2 separate regions of the Homo sapiens genome follow, and region 1 is linked to region 2. Evidence: fine-mapped expression QTL. A gene starts in region 2. The other region holds a variant in brackets. All regions are shown on one strand. Distances are from middle to middle.

The links.
Region 1: its variant is fine-mapped to the expression of BCKDHB in esophagus mucosa (GTEx, PIP 0.95).

Annotation. Positions count from the first base shown.
Region 1 is chr6:80,237,372-80,250,242 of GRCh38, forward strand. All of the region lies in intron 8 of BCKDHB (branched chain keto acid dehydrogenase E1 subunit beta), which reads left to right. Among named protein-coding and RNA genes, the nearest start is that of BCKDHB, 140 kb to the left of the region's middle. The variant C/T (reference allele first, on the strand shown) is at 4,940.
Region 2 is chr6:80,099,555-80,112,425 of GRCh38, forward strand. BCKDHB (branched chain keto acid dehydrogenase E1 subunit beta) reads left to right here and starts at 7,117. Exons shown (of 10, transcript NM_183050.4): 1 at 7,117-7,335. The coding sequence starts at 7,140. RefSeq lists enhancers at 6,913-7,413, 7,380-7,459 and silencers at 7,000-7,199, 7,230-7,329.

The sequences.
Region 1 (12,871 bases), 140 kb after region 2:
TAAAGATTCTAATAACTTAGAAGGGATTCTGTTTTATTAATTTACTATGTAGGTGATTTCTAGTGAAACTTATGATCATTAATACCAGTGGTTGCGAAAAAATAATGCCTGTTACAGAATTATTCATAATAAGCTCATGGAAATTCACTCATCATACTTAGTGTTTATTATGTGTCAGATACCTTGTTAAGCACTTTATCATTTATTACCTTTTTACTCTTCACAGTAAACTTCTGGAGTGAGAACTATTATTGTCTTCTAGATGAGAGGTTCAGAAGTGCCCATGTTCACATTAACCAGTAAGTTGGCATGGCCAGAGCTTGAACCCGAGGCTTTCTGACTCCAAAACCTATATGCCTAACTACTGCACAACCTTTCAACTTTCTAGTTCAGATCAGAAATTGAAAATCAAGGTAATTAACATGACAAGGTTCTCAGAATATGATACTTTTGTTATTTACATAAGTAGAAAAGGTTCAGGCCATCCCTATCAGCTGGAGCAGACTGCTATAAAAAAAAGGAAGAATGAAATAGAAGAATTAGGGAAAGGAAAGAGAGCAAGGATGTTGTGTAGGAACTATTTCATGTCTAGTTGAAATGTGTTATAAAACTTAAATAGGTTTTTTAAAGTTCTGTTTTGGGTGGCATAAATTTATAAAGCAAAATTCCTTCCTCCCTCCTTCGCTTCCTTCCTTCCAAAGAGTATTGAGGAGATTTTAATCTTTTTTAAATTTTTATTTTATTTTTTGAGAGTCTCGCTCTGTCACCCAGGCTGGAGTTCAGTGGCGTGATCTTGGCTTATAGCAACCTCCGCCTCCTGGGTTCAAGCAGTTCTCCTGCCTCAGCCTCCTGAGTAGCTGGGGCTACAGGCGCATGCCACCACACCCGGCTAGTTTTTGTATTTTTTAGTATAGACTGGGTTTTGCCATGTTGGCTAGGCTTGTCTTGAACTCCTGACCTCAGGTCATCTGCTGGCCTTGGCCTCCCAAAGTGCTGGGATTACAGGCGTGAGCCATCCTGCCCAGCCTTATCTTTAAATTATTCAGTAAACAACAGTCAAAAGAAAAATCTTAGCCACATTAAGTTAATAGAGTTCAGTTGAGCAAATAACAACTCGTGAATCTGGCAGCCTCGGAAACCAGAGTAGGCTCAGAGACTCTCCAGCGCAGCCAAGTGGTGGAAGATTTTGTTTTTTCACTCTTTTTATTTTATTTTTATTTATTTATATATTTTTTATTTTTTATTATACTTTAAGTTCTACGGTACATGTGCACAACATGCAAGTTTGTTACATATGTATACATGTACCATGCTGGTGTGCTGCACCCATTAACTCGTCATTTACATTAGGTGTATCTCCTAATGCTATCCCTCCCCCCTCCTCCCATCCCATGACAGGCCCCAGTGTGTGATGTTCCCCACCCTGTGTCCAAGTATTCTCATTGTTCAATTCCCACCTATGAGTGAGAACATGTGGTGTTTAGTTTGCTGTCCTTGTGATAGTTTGCTCAGAATGATGGTTTCCAGCTTCATCCATGGCCCTGCAAAGGACATGAACTCATCCTTTTTTATGGCTGCATAGTATTCCATAGTGTATATGTGCCACATTTTCTTAGTCCATTCTATCATTGATAGACATTTGGGTTGGTTCCAAGTCTTTGCTATTGTGAATAATGCTGCAATGAACATACGTGTGCATGTGTCTTTATAGTAGAATGATTTATAATCCTTTGGATATATACCCAGTAATGAGATCGCTAGGTCAGATGGTATTTCTAGTTCTAGATCTTTGAGAAATCACCACACTGTCTTCTACAATGGTTGAACTAGTTTACACTCCCACCAACAGTGTAAAAGTGTTCCTATTTCTCCACATCCTCTCAAGCACCTGTTGTTTCCTGACTTTTTAATGATCACCATTCTAACTGGTGTGAGATGATATCTCAATGTGGTTTTGATTTGCATTTCTCTGATGGCCAGTGATGATGAGCATTTTTTTCATGTGTCTGTTGACTGCATAAATGTCTTCTTTTGAGAAGTGTCTGTTCATATCCTTCGCCCACTTTTTGATGGGGTTGTTTGATTTTTTCTTGTAAATTTTTTTAAGTTCTTTGTAGATTCTGGATATTAGCCCTTTGTCAGATGAGTAGATTGCAAAATTTTTCTCCCATTCTGTAGGTTGCCTATTCACTCTGATGGTAGTCTCCTTTGCTGTGCAGAAGCTCTTTAGTTTAATTAGATCCCATTTGACAATTTTGGCTTTTGTTACCATTGCTTTTGGTGTTTTAGTCATGAAGTCCTTGCCCATGCCTACGTCCTGAATAGTATTGCCTAGGTTTTCTTCTAGGGTTTTTATGGTTTTAGGTCTAACATTTAAGTCTTTAATTCCTCTTGAATTAATTTTTGTGTAAGATGTAAGGAAGGGATCCAGTTTCAGCTTTCTACGTATGGCTAGCCAGTTTTCCCAGCACCATTTATTAAATAGGGAATCCTTTCCCCATTTCTTGTTTATGTCAGGTTTGTCAAAGATCAGATGGTTGTAGATGTGTGGTGTTACTTCTGAGGGCTCTGTTCTGTTCCATTGGTCTATATCTCTGTTTTGGTACCAGTACCATGCTGTTTTGGTTGCTGTAGCCTTGTAGTATAGTTTGAAGTCAGGTAGCATGATGCCTCCAGCTTTGTTCTTTTTGCTTAGAATTGTCTTGGGAATGTGGGCTCTTTTTTGGTTCCATATGAAGTTTAAAGTAGATTTTTTCCAATGCTGTGAAGAAAGTCATTGTCAGCTTGATGGGGATGGCATTGAATCATGAAGAAAGTCATTGTCAGCTTGATGGGGATGGCATTGAATCTATAAATTACCTTGGGCAGTATGGCCATTTTCACGATATTGATTCCTCCTATCCATGAGCATGGAATGTTCTTCCATTTGTTTGTGTATTCTTTTATTTTGTTGAGCAGTGGTTTGTAGTTCTCCTTGAAGAGTTCTCCTCTTCAAGGAGAATACAACTCACATGCCTTGTAAGTTGGATTCCTAGGTATTTTATTCTCTTTGAAGCAATTGTGAATGGGAGTTCACTCATGATTTGGCTCTCTGTTTGTCTGTTATTGGTGTATAGGAATGCTTGTGATTTTTGCACATTGATTTTTGTATCGGACTTTACTGAAGTTGCTTATCAGCTTAAGGAGATTTTGGGCTGAGACGATGGGGTTTTCTAAATATACAATCATGTCATCTGCAAACAGGGACAATTTGACTTCCTCATTTCCTAATTGAATACCCTTTATTTCTTTCTCTTGCCTGATTGCCCTGGCCAGAACTTCCAACCCTGTGTTGAATAGGAGTGGTGAGAGAGGGCATCCCTGTCTTGTGCCAGTTTTTAAAGGGAATGCTTCCAGTTTTTGCCCATTTAGTATGATATTGGCCTGTCTTGCTAGGTTGGGGAAGTTCTCCTGGATAATATCCTGAAGAGTGTTTTCCAGCTTGGTTCCTTTCTCCCCGTCACTTTCAGGTACACCAATCAGACATAGATTTGGTCTTTTCACATAGTCCCATATTTCTTAGAGGCTTTTTTCGTTTCTTTTTACTCTTTTTTCTCTAAACTTCTCTTCTCACTTCACTTCATTCATCTGATCTTCAATCACTGATACCCTTCTTCCACTTGATCGAATCGGCCACTGAAGCTTGTGCATGTGTCACGTTGTTCTCATGTCATGGTTTTCATCTCCATCAGGTCATTTAAGGTCTTCTCTATGCTGTTTATTTTAGTTAGCCATTTGTCTAATCTTTTTTCAAGGTTTTAGCTTCCTTGCGATGGATTCGAACATCCTCCTTTAGCTCAGAGAAGTTTGTTATTACTGATCTTCTGAAGCCTACTTCTGTCAACTCGTCAAAGTCATTCTCCATCCAGCTTTGTTCCGTTGCTGGTGAGGAGCTGCGATCCTTTGAAGGAGAAGAGGCACTCTGATTTTTAGAATTTTCAGCTCTTCTGCTCTGGTTTCTCCCCATCTTTGTGGTTTTATCTACCTTTCGTCTTTGATGATGGTGACCTACAGATGGAGTTTTGGTATGAGTTGTCCTTTTTGTTGATGTTGCTGCTGTTCCTTTGTGCTTGTTGGTTTTCCTTCTAACAGTCAGGACCCTCAGCTGCAGGTCTGTTGGAGTTTGCTGGAGGTCCACTCCAGACCCTGTTTGCCTGGGCATCACCAGCGGAGGGTGCAGAGCAGCAAATATTGCAGAACAGCAATTTTTTATACATATTTCTTTATGTATATAGGCAATATTTCTGGTAAATTCCTGGGAATGAAACTTCTCATTCCTACATTATCAGCATTTTGAACTTTAGTAGGTATTGTCAAATGATTTTACAGTAGTTGTACCATTTACACGCTCACCAGCAGTATGTGAGATGTCCTGTTGTGATCAATCTGATTGTGTGAAATGGTATCCTACTGGGTTTAAATTTGCCTTTCTGTAATTGCTAATGAGGTTGAACATCTTGTCTGTAAATTTGCTTCCACTTTTCTATTGGGGGAAAATTTTTCTTACTGATTTGTGGATTTCTTTTTATTATTTGGCTAAGAAACCTTTATGAGTTATATATACATTGCAAGTATCCTTTCTCAGTCTGTGGCTTGTGTTTTCACTCTTTTAATGTTGTCTTTTGATGCACGGAAGTTTTAAATTTTTCTGTGGTCAAATTTATTCATCTTTTCATTTATGGATTCTACTTTCTCCGTCTCACTTAAATCCTTCCTTATCACAAGATCATGAAGATATTTTAAAATATTTTGAATAGTTTTAAAGTTTTACCTTTCAAACTTAGGTCTCTAGTCACCTTTAATCATACTTGATATATTTAGGGTGATTTAAGGTAAGAGCTCTGTTTTATTTTTGACCCTACACTCTGCATCTTTTAACAGTATCCACTGTTCATGTACA[C/T]GTGGATTTGTTCATGGGCTGTCCATTTTATGTTTCTTTGTGTCTTTTTAGAGCCTTACAATACCTCTCTATCTTAACAATATAGCTTTATAATAAATTTGAATATCTGATAGGGCAAATCTCCCGAACTTGCTCTTCTTCAGTTATTTTTGGTGGGGTGGGAGCAGGGAGGAGAGGTGATATTTTTAGTCCTTTTATTTTCTTTAGGAATTTGAAGATTAATTGTTAAGTGACACACACACATACACATACACATGTACACACACACACACACAGTTCACATTTTTATGGGAATTGCATTTAATTTATAGATAATTTGAGGAATGTGACATCATGGCAATATTGATTATTCCTTTCCATGAATATTGGATTGTCTTTATTTATTCAAGCCTTCCTGTATTCTTAATTAATCTTTGCATCATGGGGAGGAGTGTGGTGCTGGCTGTTAACCAGGGTGGGGACTATTGACTAACATCTTTGCTACATCTGGGGTATAATAGTCCACTGGTACTGGGGCATCAGGCTAAATAGATGAGAACAGATAAAGTATAAAAATTGGGTAGGTTTCCAGAGACCCAAATCTGTTTGGGTTAAAGGCAAATCTGTAGTTTGAGTGTTCAGATTGCCATCAGTAGGCTGGTTTGGCAGGCAGAGAAGGTTGACATCTCTCGATCGGGCAAAGGATTCTATCTCTCAATTGGGGTTAATCGGGAAACGACTCAGGCATAGAGCATCAGGACTCTATAGTCATATCTCAGCCACAGACTAACTGGACAGTATGGCCAGAATCTAGTCACTGAAAGACTGGACAATAGGATAAAACAAGGTACAGAGAGACAAAGTAAAAGGGAGTACCACCTGGTACTGAGACTAGAAGTACAGGGATATCAAGAGAATGCTACTGAGCCAGCTCATTCCCAGGCAAAGGCTTATTATGTTTCATTCTTCAGCACCAGCACAAAGGCTGGAATATCAGTGGAGATAAACCCAAAGGTAGGAGAGTCCCAATCAGGGGGAAGAGGGAAGGAGTGGGGAGCCCTATGGTTCCTGACATGCTTTGCTCCCTGATGAGGTAATAGAAAGCTGAAGCAGTATATAGCTGATATAAGAAGATTCAATGTAGATAGAAAGAATATCTTAAACTAATGTCTGGATAAAACTATATTAAATTAAGTATTGTTTGACAACAGCTAAGAATTAATGAGAAAAGTCCTTAAATATCTCTCTCTCTATATTTTTTGAGTGAGGGTATCACTCTGTCATCCAGACTGGAGTGCAGTGGTGTGATCTCAGTGCACTGAAGCCTTGACCTCCAGAGCTCAAGCAGTCTTCCCACCTCAGCCTCCCGAGTAACTGGGACCACAGGTGTGCACTTCTGTGCCCAGCTAATTTTTGTTTACCTTTTTGTAGGGATAGTGTCTCATGGTGTTGCCCAAACTGGTCTTGAACTCCTGAGCTCAAGTGATTTTCCTTCTTCAGCCTCCCAAAGTGCTGGGATTATAGATATGAGCCACTGTGCCTGGCCAAGTATTTACATTTAAAGAAATCTCACTTTAAAAGTGTTTCTGTGTAAGTGTAGAGCTTAGAATTGTGAAGGCTATATTTATGTTTGTCTATTTCAATAAATAATTTATCTAAAGATGAATCAACAGCTCACTTACCTTTTTATTTCAGTAAACTGAAAATAAGAAGCCACAAGCTCTCAAAGTACCTAAGACAAAATACACTATTTCTTGAGGGCTGATCTATAATCCTGAGTCTATAAAATCATAGAAGAAGCCACTGGGTTTTTAATGTTAGGAAACTGATTGGGAAACATGTTAAGTATTGATGTGTAGGAAAGACTGAGGTGTTTGATGACAGATGAAAGTGAAGAAAGGCTGGTGAAGCAGGAGATGGAAGGGCACAGTCTGGGGACTGTGTGTGTGTGTGTGCATGTATGTGTGTACACACGTGCGCATGTAGGTGGATGTCTTAAACCACAGCACAACCTGACTAGAAGTGTATGTTGTTGTAGAAGTAATAACTAGGCAATGAATGGTTTCAAAAACATGTTAGAAATTTAAGTTTCCTTTTGAGGTAATATTCCATAGAGATTCTAAAAGAGGTTGCTCATAAATCAAATTGTGAGGAGCTCCAACTTAATTATAAGAAAAAAATAACACAGTTAAAATTACCCTTAAAGTAATTAGCATAATTTTTTTGTTTTGTTGTTATTTAAATAAAGAACAGAACTGTTGTTGCCCTGAGGGAAAAATGGATAACAGGCAGTTTGCTCATGTGGCTTATACTTTATGTATGTGTGCATCTATTGTAATAGTAACAGATAATGTCTTCTAATAGCTCATGGAAGAAATTAGTTTCTTTTCGAGCAAAATGGTAGCCTTGTGGAAGCTGACAAAAGTCATATTATAATGATTTTTGGCTCAATAAAGTAATGATAGCTTGGAAAAAGTAAAGGAGTACGGCAGCAGAAGAAAGATGACTGTAACAAAACAAATTATTTGAACAAAAGATAACTGTTTCTTTAATTGGATTCTCATGGAATATTGGTTTAAAATATGCTGACCAAAGGCAGTATCTGGAAGACAGGAACTTAGGATTTCTGAATCATAGTTCTCCTAGCTTGGATTGAATTCAATTCAACAAACTTTTGTTGAGCATCTACTCTGGAGCCAGGTGGCCTGAGTGTGGTTCTTGGTTCTACTATTCTACCTCTCTATCAGTTTCCTCATCTATAAAACAGAGATATAATAGTAGTCTTTATCTTCTGTGATTTTTTTTTTAGGATAAACAGAATTTTAATGTATGTAAAGTACTTAGAACACTGTTTGCCACTTTTGCACACACAGAAAGTCAACTGAATTAGAGACCGGAAACTGAAAGGTGCTTATACTGTCTTAGTGGGAGAGACAGATAAGAAACCCAACAATTTCAGTAGTATTTTCTGATAATACCAATAACATGTTTATCAAAAGGTTGCTATGGGAACCCAGGAATTGAAGAAAAAACGACCTTAGGGGGATAGTTTTCTGGAATAAAATTCAAAAAAGGCTTTCAATAGGAAAAAAAAAATCCCCCAAAAGCTCAGGAAACAAAAAGTAGACAAAGTGAGAGGCTGGAACACATTCATTTGTAGCTTTTTGAGCTTCCTTCCTTGCTGGACCTAACACTACATCTGGTCACCTTTTAGATACTTGGTAAAAACACGATAGAGATCATTTTAAGTTCTGATACTATTTTCATGTGTACTCTCAGTCACAGCATCTAGTTGAGACTAATGGAATTAGAATAACCAGAATAGCAAACTACTATTCCAAAGTGTAGTGCTCTGTGCTGTTAGACAAAATATTGACTTCTGGGTTGAGTTAGAACACCACGAAGGAGCAGCACTTTTATGTCATGGCCCTTCTTTTCTACTCTCTGTCAATTTGAATGAAGCAGAAGAGAGGCAAGTATTATCCAGTTAGAAATAAAAGAGAGGGCCGGGCACGGTGGTTCATGTCTGCAATCCCAGCACGTTGGGAGGCCGAGGCAGGTGGATCACTTAAGCTTAGGAATGCGAGACCAGCCTGGGCAATATGATGAAACACCATCACTACAAAAAAATACAAAAATTAGCCAAACATGGTGGTATGTGCCTGTGGTCCAGCTACTCGGGAGGCTGCTGTGGGAGGATCACTTGAGCCTGGAAGGGGGAGGTTGCAGTAATCTGAGATGACTCCCCTGCACTCCAATGTGTGTGACAGAGTGAGACCCTATCTCACTAAATAAATAAATGGATGAATGAGAGAAAGACATTTTAAACCAATATGTTAAGAATCACACTTTAGGATAACCTTGATATTGTAATAATTTATGATTCTCTAACCTGTGAAAATTGTAAATTGTTAAGCAATAAAGAGAAAATACACTTGTGGATATGCAGAAATGTGAGTTTCTCAGTGCATGGGAAGCATTGAGAGAAGGAAGGTGTCCATCCAGTCTGTGGTCCCCTGGTCGTCCCTCGCCTCCCCTATGTATCTTGTCTTGCTTAGGTTTTGACCTTTGTCTTCATGTTATCCTGCATTGCTATACAACAATTGGGGCATCTTGTGGTTGAAGTTTTAAGGTAAAATGAAACCATGGTTACTCCTTGCTGTTTCATTGGCTGGCCCTGCAGTTCTTCATGCTTACTAGCCCCCTTCCTGCCATTGCTACTACAAAAGCCCTCCAGACCTCCTTTGGTGGGAGGAGACATGAGAATGTTTTTTTATCTCACTGACATCCTACTGAAATCAGGGAAAGACAGGGCAGTGTAAAGCTTTCAGCTCATTCTAACCTGGCAGACTTCTTCACCATTGCAGCTGTATGCTGTCTACCCAACACTGGCTTACAGAATCCAAAATGGCTCTCCCAGAGGGCTTCAGAAGCTGGGCAGAAGCTCCTAATGTTTGTGGAGACACCCCCTTAGTCTTTCTGAATGTTTTACCATCTTACCACCCCATCTTCTGTCCAGCCCCATGCTGACACACACTTGTACACACTTGCACACACACATACACACATACATAGACAAACTCACACATTCCCCCACCCCTCTCCCCCAACATACAGACACACCTTCAAGGGCCCAGACAATGTTTAATCTCTAGTTAGACACTTTGGTCCTTATTTCATCCTAGAAGGCAATCAAACTTATATTTCTTTTCTTTGAGCCAGGGAAACTGCTTTAATATTCTCCTTTTGCCATATCTATGAGTAACTTTCATATAAGCTCTCAATTCTACAGTTCTGCATGGTCCAAGCAAAGTCCTTTTGGACCATCAAAACAAAACCGTTTCTCTCTCAAGCTCTTAGAGAATGTGGGTTGCAAAACAATTGCTTCTGCAAAGCTAATTTTTAAATTGCTATTTGGAAAATTATAACTGAACAATAATGCCTTTGTCCTTGGCTGTATCTGTCTGTCTCTCAAAGCCAAAGCTTTCAGCTTTGCTGGGTAAAGCAACAAGATTAGTAAGAATAAAAATAAATCACATAATATTTCAAAAATATTATCCTGTTAAATCTTATTACCTAGACCTGAGTTATTTCACACAAGAAGAATACTCAATCAGCTACATCCTTAAGGTTGTCATAACAAATCAGGCTGATTTCCACACATATTTATAACCGGAATTATTAGTTTTTCAAAGATATGTTACAGGTGAGCTAACATTAGATGTAGAAGGGAAACTTTTGATCAAAGTTTAAATTCTGATTCCTCTTGTTCACTTGGATGTCTTTACGATTCATTTAAACTTTCCAAAATCTTATTTCTAAAACAGGCATAACAATTCACTATGACAATGCAGCATATTGTCTGTACTTTTGGATGCTTTCTGGAAGGTTGTCAGCAGCCAACTAAATTCATTATTAGAGACTTACAGTGAAGGGAAATGGTTCTTGAGGTGACCCCTGTTCAGTCCAGAAATAGCAGCTCTTTATTTAGGTAATTACCATTGTGAATTGCTGCTAATGGCCACGTTAGTGGAAGTCTATGTTGTGATGAGGACCACTTTAACATTGGGGTGGTTTTGATTCTTTCTGCTACTTAACATTCAGAATGATCCATAGCTGAAGCTTAGTTACTATTAAAAATCTACAGTGTTTTGCCAGTGGGAATTCCAATTATTATTGCCTGGTAATTAAAAGACCTGCTTGCCTCAGAGTTTTTGAAAGAACAAAATAATACATGTGATTGTTTCAAACTTCAACTCTATTTGAATGTTAGGTGGTTGTTATTAATTTTTACTAACTCTCTTACTGTACTCTTTTTCTCCCTTATCTAGTTTTCCTGCTCTCTTTTCAATGCTTTGGGAAATTCATCTTCATAAAGCTTGATTTTTAATTGAAGCAAATTTTTCTCAGAGTCAGCACCACAGTGTCCAAGGTCATCTGTTGTCTTAGCATCTTTTCCACTGTTTAATCTGTGTCTTAAGGCTTCTTTGGTTCTTTTTGGATCTGTGATTGTTTCTGTTTTCTGAACATGGGATATAGTTCCAGATACACTGCTTTTTTATACTGAACTACATTCTGCGTTGCTTGGTTTTGTTTTACTTTGCTTTTCTCTAGTATTTTTTGAGCTTAGGGTTTATTTTTATCATTTATAAATTGGTTTGAAAAAAGATTAATTCACTCAGTGTTCAACATTTGAATCAAGTGACAATTATGTGCAAAATACAGTGGTATTGCTGGGATATGGTATGAGCCCAGAATGCCCAGGCTTCTGGCTTGACTACAGGATCAGTGGTGCTGTCATTCACCAGGGCTGGGACTGCTGGAGGTAGAGCTGAAGTGGAAGGGAGAGTTGGGGCAGAATGAGTGGATGATGGACAATTGCTGTTAGCTTTGCATGTGGGAAAGTTTAAGGTATCCAGTGGCTGGTGTGGTACCTTAGAGAGGCTCTCACTCCAAGTGGCAGATCTAGGTATCATTAGTATAAATACAGTAATTGAAGCCAAGGGAGTGAATGAAAGAGAATGGAGATGAATTCTCTGTTGAATGATCACCAGACTTGCCATGTTTTTCTATAGATAGATACCCTGGTTGGAAGTTTGTGTGTGTGTGTGTATGTGTGTGTGTGTGTGTGTGTGTGTGTATGTGTATTGTGTGTGTGCATCCCAGAATAGCCATAGTGGTGTGGAGGTGTGTATGTCTTCAGTGTATTTGGTAGGCTTCCTGGAAACTACAGTTTTAAAAATGATTGACAACCATAGGCTGGAACTTCTTAACCATGTTAACATGAATTTATAGTTTGTTTATTGTGGGGCTGTTCTGTGCATTGTAGGATGTTTAGCAGCATTCCTGATTTCTACCTACTAGATGCTAATAAGTTCCTCCCACCCAATCCTCATCCCCAGTTGTGGTGACCAAAAATGTCTTTAAGCATTGCTAAATGTTCCTTGGGCTAGATAATGCCACCTGAATAAGTTCTTCTCTGAATTTATTTACAGCATTTTGGGAGGAGCCACATTAACTTTTATGTTCCAGAATGCTTGAAAAACACATTCATGTCTGCAGTTATCCTGACTGATATTTAGGAAGCAGTTTACTCCTCCATCCTGGAGGATCAATTGAGTAATTTTACCATTAAAAAAAAAATCATTTGCTGCACATAAAAGTACAGATAGCTGCTAGATGCAAATTAAATTTTGTTTTACTTTATATGTGTATGATATATAAATGAAAAGGGGTGACCAGGACATGTTGTACTCCAAATAGTGAAATAGCCTGTAGTTATGACTCAGTCATTTCAAAGGAATTGCTGTCACTTCTTTATGTGTCAAATACATTTTAAGGCAGACCATCCCAAAGAGTACTCTTGGGGTGGAGGTAAGAGGGTGGAGTCCAAGTGCGGTGAACATGAATTTTGTAATAGTGATTTGAATGTAAAAAGTTTTAAAAGAGCTAGTGCTTAATATTTTTAAACTTCATTTATAAATTCCTTAAAGCAAAAGAATATAAAAGTAACTTAATTACCTGCCATGGAAGCTAAATTAACTTACACCTTGAAAACCTCCTCTTAAAATAACTCAGATTTTAAAGAGTCATTTGTAAGGTAAGTTGTGGCATTGTTGTAAGCACCTGCCTGTATGTGTGTTGCTCTGAAATAATGCTATTATTTATTCTATTATAGAATGTAGATTCTGTGAGGGGAAGGGTTTTGCCCATTTTCTTCACTTTTCTTTCTCCACCTCCCACACTTCCTTCATGTTACAGTACACAGTGGTGTAGAGTGTGGGCTGGGTTGCAGCCTCAGAGAGTAGTTAGTATCCTGTTTTAGTTGGCTCTCCTTCTTCTCTGACCTCTGCCGGCCTCCCCAACAGCCACTGCCACCACCTCACAGCCAATATTCTTGATATTCTGGTTGAGGAGATAACTGAAGCCTAGGAGTTTAGATCAGGGTGGTAT
Region 2 (12,871 bases):
CTCTTTTTCCACACTGGTCACCACCTGGTGTTCCCAATAAAGTTTGTGATGGAGGTAAGGTAAGATATGGGTCTCAAATTTCTTTTGTCCCAATATTCACAATTATGTAAGCCATAGTTTTAATTAAGCTTTGAGAAACCTAGCAGTACTCATAAATTACCTGGGGAAGTTTTAAAAAATCACTACTGCCGGGCTGGTATGTATTTTTACAGATGAGTAGCTCTCTCTAAAACACTGTTATACATACAGGCAGATATTAACATTTGTAGCCGTTTTCTGAGCCATTGATTGTATCTAAATCCTTCCCCTGGGCTGAGCCCAAACTTCCAATAATGTCACTTTTTGATGCCCTTTCTTCAGTGACTGGCTTACACGGCTTCTGTCTACATAGCATGGTTCAAAGTGCTTGGAAGACTGATCACAGTGCATCTCAAGCCCCTGCAGGAGATAAGAAGCCAGAGAGAAGTTGCCAAGATGCCGAGGAAGGGGAAGAAGGAATAACTCACATGCTGGATGGGACAGCTGGCTTAGACCAGGGGTTGGCTTAAAATAATGTTGATTGAAACACTGTCTCTGGCACATGCAAGGCTCTCAGTACACACTAGTGAATAGTAGAATCAGAATTCTTAAAATTAGAAGTACGCTAAACCACCTGTAAATGAAGCATAAATCCTCCCAAGAGGCTCCCTCAATAGTGTTCATCCATTTCGTGCTTGACTATTTCAGTAATAGAGAATTCATTACTTCCCATGACAGTCTACTTAATAAGAAGCTCTTTATATTACACTAGAATTTGCTTCTTCCTGTTTCTTATTCTTCCCTCCGGAGCTAAATAGTAAATTTAACCCCTCTACAAGGGAGCCCATCAAACTTTGAGGGAGAGTTAATACATCACTTTTAAAATCTTATCTAGACCAAATATCTCTAGATTTTTAACCCTTCTCCAAATGACTTTAGGTCATATTTGAAGAAATCCACAAAACACTTTATAAAAACTCTTTAACCATGTAAACATCCTCCTAATAGTTTATCAAAAGCATCCATAGTTTATCAAAAGCATTCATCCAGTTAGCTTCTGTTCCTGCAACCAAGTCTCTGACTGTTATGCCCCTGTCCCCTGAAAGATATGTTGAGCTTGACACTCCCCTACCCCCAAACCCAGTACCTAACCCCTGGCCCTCAGAATTTAAGCTTATTTGGAAATAGGGTCATGGCAGATGTAATTGATTAAGTTAAGATGAGGTTAGATTGGAGCAGTGTGGGCTTCTAATCCAATATGACTGGTGTCCTTATAAAACGATAGCTGTGCAAAGATATGGAGACGGCATGTGGTAACAAACGCACATACTGGATTTATGCAACTGCAAGCCAAGGGATGACAAAGAATTCCAGAGAACCAACAAAAGGGAAAAGAAGAATTTTCCTACAGGTTTCAGAGGGCGCATGGTCCCACTGACACCTTGATCTTGGACTTGATCAGAATCGCAGACAATACGTTCCTGCAACCAGTTTGTGCTGCTTTGTGACAGCATCCCTAGGAAACAAATACATTGGCTTTGAGTATATTCTGGACTTTCTTTTGATTCCAACAGGATCATTCCACTTAGTAATTCAGTGAAGTAAGGAAAATCAGGGAGCTTTTCCATTATCCCGAGTCCTTAGTTGAAACCGATTTCATATGAACAGAGTCTGTGAACTAATACACTGGATGTTAAACATGCTGTAGGGGGAATGAATCTCTTCATCAACATATTTAGATGGGCAAATATAACTTTATTTTTCTGTAATTTAATTTTTAAATAATAGTGCTACTGATATATAATTTACATATCATGAAATTCATCCTTTTAATGTACAATTCACTGGTTTTTAGCATAGAGCAAAGTTGTGCAACCATCAACATTACTTAATTTTAGAACATTTTCATCACTCAAAAAATAAACTTTAGGCCGGGCGCGGTGGCTCACGCCTGTAATCCCAGCACTTTGGGAGGCGGAGGCGGGCGGATCACGAGGTCAGGAGATCGAGACCATCCCGGCTAAAACGGTGAAACCCCGTCTCTACTAAAAATACAAAAAATTAGCCGGGCGTAGTGGCGGGCGCCTGTAGTCCCAGCTACTTGGGAGGCTGAGGCAGGAGAATGGCGTGAACCCGGGAGGCGGAGCTTGCAGTGAGCCGAGATCCCGCCACTGCACTCCAGCCTGGGCGACAGAGCGAGACTCCGTCTCAAAATAAATAAATAAATAAATAAATAAATAAATAAATAAACAAACTTTATATCCATTAGCAGTCATTCCCTACCTCCTGTCTCTGTTGATTTGTCTATTCTGGACTTTTTATAAATGTAATTGTATAATATATAGTATTTTAAACTGGCTTCTTTCACTTAGCGTAATGTTTTCAAAGTTCATCCATGTAACACTACTTAATTACTCTTTATTGACAGATAATATTCTATTTACAGATATATCAGTTTTGTTTAACCATTCATCATTTCATGGGTATTTGGATTGTTTCCACTTTTTTGCTATTATGAATAGTGCAGCTACGAATATTTGTGTACTAGCTTTGGTGAATACACCTTTTCATTTTTCTTTGTTATATACTTAGGAGTGGAATTGCTGGGTCATAAGATAATTATGTTTAAAAAAACAAAAAAGGAAGAGAAATAGAAGAACAAAATTAAAAAGATAACTGTGTTTAACATTTTGCGGAACTGTTTTCCATAGCAGCTGCATCATTTTACAGTCCCACCAGTGATGCACAATGGTTCCAGTTGCTATACAGCCTCACCAACACATGTTATAGATTTCTTTTTATTTTAATCATCCTAGTGGATATGAAGTGGTATCTCATTGTGGTTTTGATTTGTATTTCTTTAATGACTATTGATGTTGAGAATCTTTTCTTATGTTCATTGGCCACTTGCATATCTTCTTTGGAGAAATGTCATTCAAATCCTTTGTCCATTTCTTTAAATAGGCTATGTTTTTTAGAGCAGTGTTAGGTTCACAAAAAATTTGAGAGGAGGGTACAGAGAATGTCCATATGCTTTCCCCAAATACAGAGCTTCCTTAATCATCAACATTTGCACTGCAGTGGCACATTTGTCACCATCAAGGAACCTACATTAACACACAGTTGTCAACCAAAGCCCATAGTTTACATTAGGGTTCACTCTTGGTGGTGTACGTTCTATGCATTTGGACGAATGTATAATGACATATTTATATGTCCACCATTATAATATCATACAGAATATTTTTCCTACCCTAAGAATCCTCTGTGATTTTCCATTTATCCCTTCCTGCTCCCAACCCTTGCAACCCCTCATCTCTTTTATTCTCTCCATAATTTTGCCTTTTCCAGAATGTCATATAGATGGATTCATATAGTATGTAGCCTTTTTAGATTGGCTTCTTTCACTTAGTCATATAAATTTAAACTTCTTCCATGTCTTCTGATGGTTAAATATTTTTTTTTCTTTTTTTTCTTTTTTTTGAGAGTCTCACTCTGTTGCCCAGGCTGGAGCACAGTTGCGTGATCTGGGCCCACTGCAACCTCTGCCTTCTGGGTTCAAGCGATTCTCCTGCCTCAGCCTCCTGAATAGCTGGGACTACAGGTGCACACCACCACGCCCAGCTAATTTTTGTATTTTTAGTAGAGACGGGGTTTCACCATGTTGACCAGGCTAGTCTCAAATTCCTGACCTCAGGTGATCCGCCCGCCTCGGCCTCCCAAAGTGCTGGGATTACAGGCATGAGCCACCACACCCAGCTTAATATTTCTTTTTAGTGCTGAATAATATTCCATTAAGTTTATTTGGTTGCTTCCAAGTTTGGGCAATTATGAATAAAGCTGCTGTAAATATTCTGCACAGGTTTTAATGTGGACATACATTTTTAGCTTATTTGGGCAAATACCAAGCAGCACTACTGCTGGATTTCATGGTGAGAATATGTTAGTTTTATAAAAAACTAAACTGTGTTGCAAAGTGGCTATACCATTTTGCATTGCCACAATCAATGAATGAGAATTCTTTGCCCATTTTCTAATTGGGTAATTTTTCTTTTCTATTGTTGCGTTTAAGACTTTCAATCAGTATATTCTAGACACAAGTCCTTATCATTCTGATTGCTGGGTCTCCTCAAGTTCCCTGGATCTTGTTGCCATAGCTGCATCTCTCTTGGCCACATGGGAGAAGCATCCTGCTGTTTCAAATGCCATGACATGCTGGGTAGCCTGAGGATTTAGTGATACTTTTCTAGGTTCATCTACAAAGGAGGATACCTACAGGTCTTTCTAATCTATAGCTGTACCTCCATGGAAGGTGAGACAAACCATCTCTTATACTGGTATGTGATTTACAATCTTTTCTTTTAGCCCTAAGCTTTGTTTCCTAACTCATTCAGGTTTTTGAGGTTTAATACTCAGAAACCAGTCTGTAGAATTCAAACTTTTCTCTCAAATTATTGTCTCTGCTATCAAGTTTAAAATCTATTTTAAAATTCAAAAGCAATAATTTGATTTCTTTTTTTTCTGCCTCCATGATACCTCTGTTTGAGTTTGAAAGGAGGCAGATGCCAGGATGTAATACTGCAAAACTATCATCTTGCTATATAAAATGGTCGTCTAAAAGCAAGCTGAGACTAAACAGGTACAAGTTGCACAGGTAGTGAAGCTCAGTGAGAGCAAGTGATGCAAGAGTCATTCTGAAGGGTGAAGAGCAACTTTGCTTTGTATTCCAACTCCATAGTCATGGGTTCTGCAATTGGAAATAGCTTAAACAAAGAGGGGAATACATTTTAAGGATACGGTGATGTCTCATAGAACCCCAGGACCAGAAAGCAGTTAGGCCTTGGGAATAAATGGAATCAGGAACTCAAATATAATCACACTCTTCACCTTTTCTGGTTCACGAAATTACTGAAAACTCCCATTTTTTGCAGTTCCTAGTGGCATTTAAAGATAATCTGATCTTTCTTTCTAAACTACACTTCCAAAATTCCCAGAAAAGGACAGTTTCCCAAATTGAGTAAATGTGGCCAGGGCAAGGGGAATGGAGGAAAGTCCCACTGTAATAACATAGACATTTTCATGGTTACCAGGCAAATGGTGTGGTAGAGATGGGGAAAATTTAAAAAATCAGTTTGCAAAACAGGTGAATCTGGCAGGTGCTCTGTTTGTTTTTCCTGGCTGCATGTAGTTGAAAGTTCAAACCTCTTAGACCTTCAAAATCTCCCTTTAATCTGTTTTTCCTACTTTTTCTGTTAACCCTGTATCATTCCCTACACCCTGAATCTAGAAGCACCAAGCTATTTTCTCTTCCTGGAATGCACTGTGCTCTTCATGCCTATCAGCCTTTATACAGGTTTCTTCTTAGTTTGGAATGCCATTTTCTCCCTAGTCTGCCTGGTAACTTCTAGTCATCTTTTAGGTCTAGCTCAGAGTTATATCTGGAAACACTTGACTTTCAAATAAGAGTTTATTGCTCTTTTTGTGTTTCACTTTGTTTGCACTATTCTAGGACTCCTATCACATTGGATTGTAGTTGCCTAATCTGTCTCTTTTCTCTACCACCTTGGACATTTTAGAAGTAAAACTATGCCTTGATCTTATTTGTCTCAATGGTGGCTTGTCATTGGGTTGTACGTAGCAGAGGTTCAATAAAATTCTCATCAGTTATTATTTTTCTCTTTTTCTCCCCGACCTAAATAATCTCAGTACCCCCAGCTCCCTAAACTATCAACAAATAGAAAAAAAGCTCTATTCATTTTTATCCTTGTTCTTTACTCTCCTTAGTTTAAACCCAAATTTGACTATGTAAATGTAATTTCATTTTGTTACCCCTTCCTTCATTAAAACAAAAATACCCTTCATGCACATGCAAAACACTCTACCCCACACTATTAAAACAGCAGAAATGAACACTAACAAAAGCCAAGATAAAAAATTTCCCCAATGTTGAATTTTTGGACTTAGTGTGGGGGTAGGAAAAATGGAGACATAATTCTGGTTCTCCCTTTGGCAGTTTTCAATTGCTGTTTCTTAATCTCAGTCAGAAAACACATTTCTCTGCCTCTCCTTTTGCCCCATTTCTACCCTCTCCTCCCTTGCCCCTGTGCAAAACCAAAGATGGGTTAAGAGGCAAGGCATAATGGAAGAGGAATGTTCTTTTCCTCCACTCCCACTTTCTTCTTCAAATTCTGTTTTGGGACCATCCTTCCCCACCCTCCCATTTTCATCTGATGGACACACTGTCTCTGTTGTCTCTTGTCATATTTGATTTTATGATATTTCATGTTTTATGTGCTTTTTTTTTTTTTTAGTAAATTCATGGACAGAGAATGTATCCTGGTAAACACTTAGATTAAAACAAATTTACATAGTTGATTACTATAAATGAAAATTAGTGACTCAAATTCTCCAGGTTTCTAAGCTACTTAGACTAAGCCAATCAGGTAATTTTTGCTACTTCTGGGCAAAATGTATCTGAATTCCTATTCAGTGGATTTGCAGGATGAAATCTAAGTTTACCTCTTTCATCTCTCATTTAAATGTGGAAAAACGAAATCAATAAAAATCTATATATGCTTATTAAGCATTTTAAGGAGGGTGTGAATAAGGAGTGAAAGCTTTGAGCAGTGACTACAGCAGTTTTTCGAAAGTCAAAACAATAACCAATGCCAATCAGTAGCTCTCTTCACCTCTCACACAATAATAGAGACAGGACAGGATAAAAAAGGGTTACATTTAAAAAAAAGTATGGATGTTAAACCATTGGAAATGGCACTGTAAATGACACCGGAAAAGATCGCCTCCAGGCACTGTGTGGAACTTTGCAAACTCGGGTCCTCACCCGAGGACCGCACGGCCGACCTCGGGGAGGCTCCACCCCAGAAACTATTTCATTGGCGCCACCTCTAGCCCACACTTCCCCTCTTCCGCATGCGCACAAGGAGCAGAAGCCGACCAGCTCGTCACGTCGCCTTCCCCGCCCCTAAATTTCCAGTTCCGATTGGTCTGTTTCATGGGACCGCCCCTCTGGCCCGACCAATGTGGAAGCCTCCTCGGGTGCTCCGCCCTCCCCGCAGGCGGCGTGCGGCTGCATAGCCTGAGAATCCCGGTGGTGAGCGGGGATGGCGGTTGTAGCGGCGGCTGCCGGCTGGCTACTCAGGCTCAGGGCGGCAGGGGCTGAGGGGCACTGGCGTCGGCTTCCTGGCGCGGGGCTGGCGCGGGGCTTTTTGCACCCCGCCGCGACTGTCGAGGATGCGGCCCAGAGGCGGCAGGTGGCTCATTTTACTTTCCAGCCAGATCCGGAGCCCCGGGAGTACGGTGAGCCCTGGGACTGCCCACTCGGTCCCGCTGCAGCCCGGACTCCCAGGCTCGCAGGCGCCCGCGAGGGGCAGGGGCCGGCAGGCTGCAATCCTTGCATCCCAGCTTATTAACTTCCTGACTCTCTGGAACCTCCTTGCCTCAGGGTCTAACTGTGGTTCACTTCTTGCTCTATTTTTGTGACTGTTCAGCCCTCGAGACGCAGTCCCCCCTCCCCCGCAACTTTGAGATGGGTGAGAGGGCATACTGCCACCTGGAAGAGCCTGAGGGTGGAGGGGTGGTGCCCAGGGAACGCCTCCCTTTTCTCTGTCCTCCGTCCTTGCTTTCTCAACCCAGGCCTTAGGTGTTGTTCCAGCCTGGCCAGGACTGGGCCACTAGCTTAGGTAGAGGCATTTAAAAGATATATATATATGTTTATATATATATATTTTAAATGTATATTATATATATTATATATAAAATATATATATGTATATAAAATCAATTCAGTTACTCAGTCCCTTGGTTTCTTCTTACATACAGAAATTGTGTGTATGTGTGTGTGTGTGTGTGTGTGTATATATCCACACACATATATATATGTGTGGATATATATACGCGCATATATATGCATATATATGTGCGCATATATATATATATGCATATATATATATGCACACATATATATGCATATATATATGCATATATGTATATATGTCCCTTGGTTTCTTCTTACCTACAGAATTCTGAGTAATTGAACTGATTTTCCCAAGGTCACAGAACAGGTCCTTCCTAGAGATGTGAAAGAATTCAGACTTTCTACTTGAGCTTAGTACTGAGCTTGTCCTGGGCTATGCTGCCACTTAGCCAAGGAGGTGAAGGGGATGAGAGGAGGAAGCCATAGGAAGGGCATGTAGCAAACTCCTCATAGTATGACTGTTGCATGATTTTTACCATTTCTGCAAGTTTCATGTAATGTCTCTCATCAGAATATCAGATCCAGTGTCTCTCTTCAGAATATCAGGAAACTGTAGGGAAACATGTATTGCTTCCTTGTCTAATAACTTCTCATGTGCATGCTAGAGCTGACATTTTTGGAAGTGTGTCTTGTGGATAAGAATGAACAGTTATTGAGTGCTTACCAGGGTCAGGTGCTGTGTGTATGTTTCATCATCTCATTTAAGGGTTAGGACAACCTTAAAAGGTTAGTAAAGTTTTTATTCCCATTTTGCAGTTAGGTTAATGGAGTCTTGAGACAGTTTGACCAAGATTACACAGGTAAGTTAGTGGTAGCTCCAAAGCTCCAGCTTTGGAATCTAATTGATCAGATTCCAGAGCTTCCATTCTAAACAATGTACTAAGATGCGTGTAGATATAATTTACTTGGAGGGCGTCCCAGTATTGTGAAACAGTAGGTACCATAAAGGTTAATAGTAGGTGTTTTTTTTTTTTTTTCCACCACCAAGATGAGCCCTCAATTCTGTCTTCAAAGCAAATTCTGTCTTCAAAGCAAAGAAATTTTGGTCTAATACTTGAGAAATAGTCCAACTTTCCATAGTTGTAAACTTACTAAAATCTAAGTAAAATGATATCATGTTATCATGATATATATCATGATATATATAAACTTGTTCTTATTTTAAAAATAATACAAACATATTAACAGATAATTTGGATAATGGATAAAAAGTAAAAAAAAAAAAAAAAAATCTGCCGGGCGCAGTGGCTCACGTCTGTAATCCCAGCACTTTGGGAGGCGGAGGCAGGCGGATCACCAGGTCAAGAGATCGAGACCATCCTGGCCAACATGGTGAAACCCGGTCTCTACCAAAAATACAAAAATTAGCTGGGCGTGGCAGCGCATGCCTGTAGTCCCAGCTACTCGGGAGGCTGAGGGAGGAGAATCGCTTGAACCTGGGAGGCAGAGGTTGCAGTGAGCTGATATCGTGCCACTGCACTCCAGCCTGGTGACAGAGCAAGACTCTGTCTCAAAAAAACCCCAAAAAACCAAAAAACAAAAATCACCACCCACTGCAGTAAATATTGCTAACATTTTGGGTGTATCCTTACAGGTATTTCCTTTTAGTTTCGTATTTTCCATACTTTTAGTTTTAATACAAATACAACTTATTTAGTCGGAAGAATTATCCTACAATTCACTGGAGTTTTTATAACCTTCTTGAGAATTTAGAAGAACTGTTCCATGGAGTAGAGATGCTACAAGTCTTTTACAAGTTAAATTCTTGACCCCGGAATCAGATTGTCCTAAGTTTGATCTTGCCTTGGCTGTCTATAACTTTGGAGTTACTACTTATCCTCTGTAAGCCTCAGTTTCTTTATATGTAAGGGGTTAATAATAATACCTACTTCAGAAGGTTGTTGTGAGGGCTACATAAAACAATGTCTATAATATACTTAACACTGTTTGACAACTGAGAATCAAGCATTCAGTCAATAAGTGGAACCTTTAAATAATTACCATTATGTTTTTGTTGTTAAAATTTTGCAATTTTGTAAATAATGCAGATACAAGCATTTCATGCATATGGGTTTTATGTATCTGAGATTATTTCTTTAGGATAGAGTCCTGAATACTTTAATGGATTTTAAGTGCATAGTTCAAATTTATACCCATTTATACCCCATAATATGTATAATAGTGTGAGTATTGGATATTAATGCTAAAATTAGGTGTGTTCATGTACACTCTTGGATATTTTGTGCTAACTGTACTTTGTTTTAATTTTTGTTTCATTTCTGTTGAGGAATATTTTCCCATGTTTTTGTTAAATTGATTTATTTTTACTTAAGAATTGAATATTAGATGTATTTACATATTTTTAAAAGTATACTCAGTATTTTTCCTATCAATACTATCTACGATTATTGCATAGCTGCTCTTTTCCAGGTGTTGTGTTAGACATCAGTTTATAATCCTCACAGTAACCTTGTGAACTAGACAATATTATGCTCATTTTAAAGATGAGAAAATTGAGGCTCAGAAATGTTAGTACTTACCCAAGTCTGGTAAGTAGCAGAGCCAGAGTTTGAATCCTGATGTGTCTTACTCCAAAGCCTCCCACACTACTTATATACTAAGATTTTGTCTGTTAAAAAATATTGAAGAACATACTAACTTTCTGCTTTTCACATGTCCTGCAAATACTTTTCACTCTTTTATTTTGGTTGTTTTGACATATAAAAGGTACTGCTTAAAAGGAGGTAGTCAGATTAGACTCTGAGTTGGTGACACTTATGCTGCTTTATGCTGGCATGTTTGCTCCCTTTATTACACTGTGTTGTTCTCTGAGAACAGTTCATCCTGGCTTCTCCATGCCCCTGATTCTTGGGCATTGTATGGATGTGAGTTTGTTTATTCAGTCATTCTCTGCATTTTTATTTTCTCCTGGATGCCATACTCTCTGCTAGCTGCTAAGGATGTGATCATGGACCTGTCGGAGGGTAATCTGAACCTTCGTTTTGGACACTTGGTATCCCCTATCTGCCAGGAAATTCAAACTTTTTGTAGTTTTTTCATCCAGGATTTGGCTATACACAAGGAGGTCATCCATATACTGGAGTATACTCCCATTTCTTAATTAATTGCAGACCCCTCAGATTCCTCTCTAAGGCCCAGGCAAAGCAATGGGGGCTATCCTGAAAACCCTGAGGGAGAACTGTCCAAGTGTATTATTGTTTTTCTCTGGCATTAGGATTTTCCCATTCAAAGGCAAAAAGGTATTGGGATTCTGGGGCCAGAGGAATGGAAAATGAAGCATCTTCTAGGTCTAGGACTGAGAACCATTTAGCATCCCTTGGCACCTGAGCCAGGAGGGTATATGGATCTGCCACCAATGGGTGGACCTACCAGTGGGTCTTAAGAGCCCAGGGGTAAGTAATACCTTAGCTGTGGATGCTTGGCCTTTCCTTGCTTCCAGCTTAATTGGGTATTGTTTTTGATTGGGAAAATAAATAGCTAGGGGTCTTTAAGCTGTATTTTGGCTGGCACTGCTGTTTTAGCCTTCCTTGGTTTTCCAGTATACCATGCCAGTGTGTTAACCTGTTTATTAATGTGGTCTGGGACAGTGTCTGTATTTTTGACTATTAGCAATTTCACCAGATGATGCTTAAATTGTAGTAGTGCCCCTATTTTAACCATAATATCTCTTTTTAACAGGGGGCCTGGGCAGCTTGATACTACTAGAAATTACTGTTGGAAGATTTGTTTCTCAATTTGACAAATCAAAGGAGGAATAAAGGATCTTACTTGTGGCTTTCCTTCCATTCCCATAATGGTCGTGGACTGGGAGGAAAGTTTTCCTACATAAGTAGTAAGGAAAGAAACTGAATTTGTATTGAAAAGAAACTGAATTTGGGTGCCCATGACGTCCAGAGTTACCTGGGGGCTCCTCAGTAGTAATTACGATGTTCCTGAACAGGGGCAGTGAGGAAGACCCTGGGTCGCTTCAGTCTTCATCTAATTTCTCTTTTGCACTGCTAGAGTTTTGCCTTATTGAACCCCTTGGTGGGAGCAGGGCCAGTCAATCTTCCAGTGCCAGGGGTTGTAACTGATGCTCTCGCATTTTTGGCAGGGGACTGGCAGGGGCTTAATATAGTCCTTTATCCAATTCTCGTTTTTCTTGCATTTGAAGCAAGAGTCTTTGTTGTGCAGATTATCAGAGGCAAGCCAAATCAACCAAATTCCAAGTGGCTGGTGTGCTCCATCAATTCCTGCAGGCCTGAAATAGGTAGCCTAGGAATTCCAAATAAATAGAACACATGATGACTTGTTGGAAATTCGCAGGAAACAAAATAACTATTCTCAGAACCAAATAAAAGCCTTCCACTAGAAACTAAAAAATGTCTATGGTTTTATATATATGCATACACAAGTAAAACCCAAAGGAGAACAAATAGCAAACAAATGAAAATTAGAAGCAAAAACAAATAGACAGGAAACCATCTCTAAATTTTTCCTACTTAGTCTACCCGGGGGGCTACAGTGTTACCCAGAGCCCCCCAGAAAACCACATAATGAATATTTTATTCCTGATACACAACTCAATATCCTTAATTCCACCAGTATCACCATACATACTGTGCAATGAAGAAATTCACTCTAGGCACATGACCAGTAAGTACTCCAGTGCCAGCTTGTTTAGTAAAGTTATACTTAAGTCATGTGAACTTGAAAATTGCTTAGACTTATTTACTTAATTTATGAGCGCTCCTTTAATTATAAGCCAATCTGATAGACACAACATATAACAGTAAGTGTACATACAAATAAACACATCTAGACATGTATACACAAACACAAATGAAGATCCAATAGCTTTTTACCTTGGAACTCTAGCCATGAGATAGCAATATAAGTCCACTGGTTTTACTGTTTGACCCAATGGGTAATCCAGTGAAGGCTGTGAACCAAAATTTCAGGTCAAGCAGTTTCCATGGTAGTTTGATTTTTAAAGGCCAAACCTCCCCAGACTCCAAACACTGGGGCCAAACAGCACCAAAGGAGAACACCACATGCTAACCAGGCCAACCCTACTTA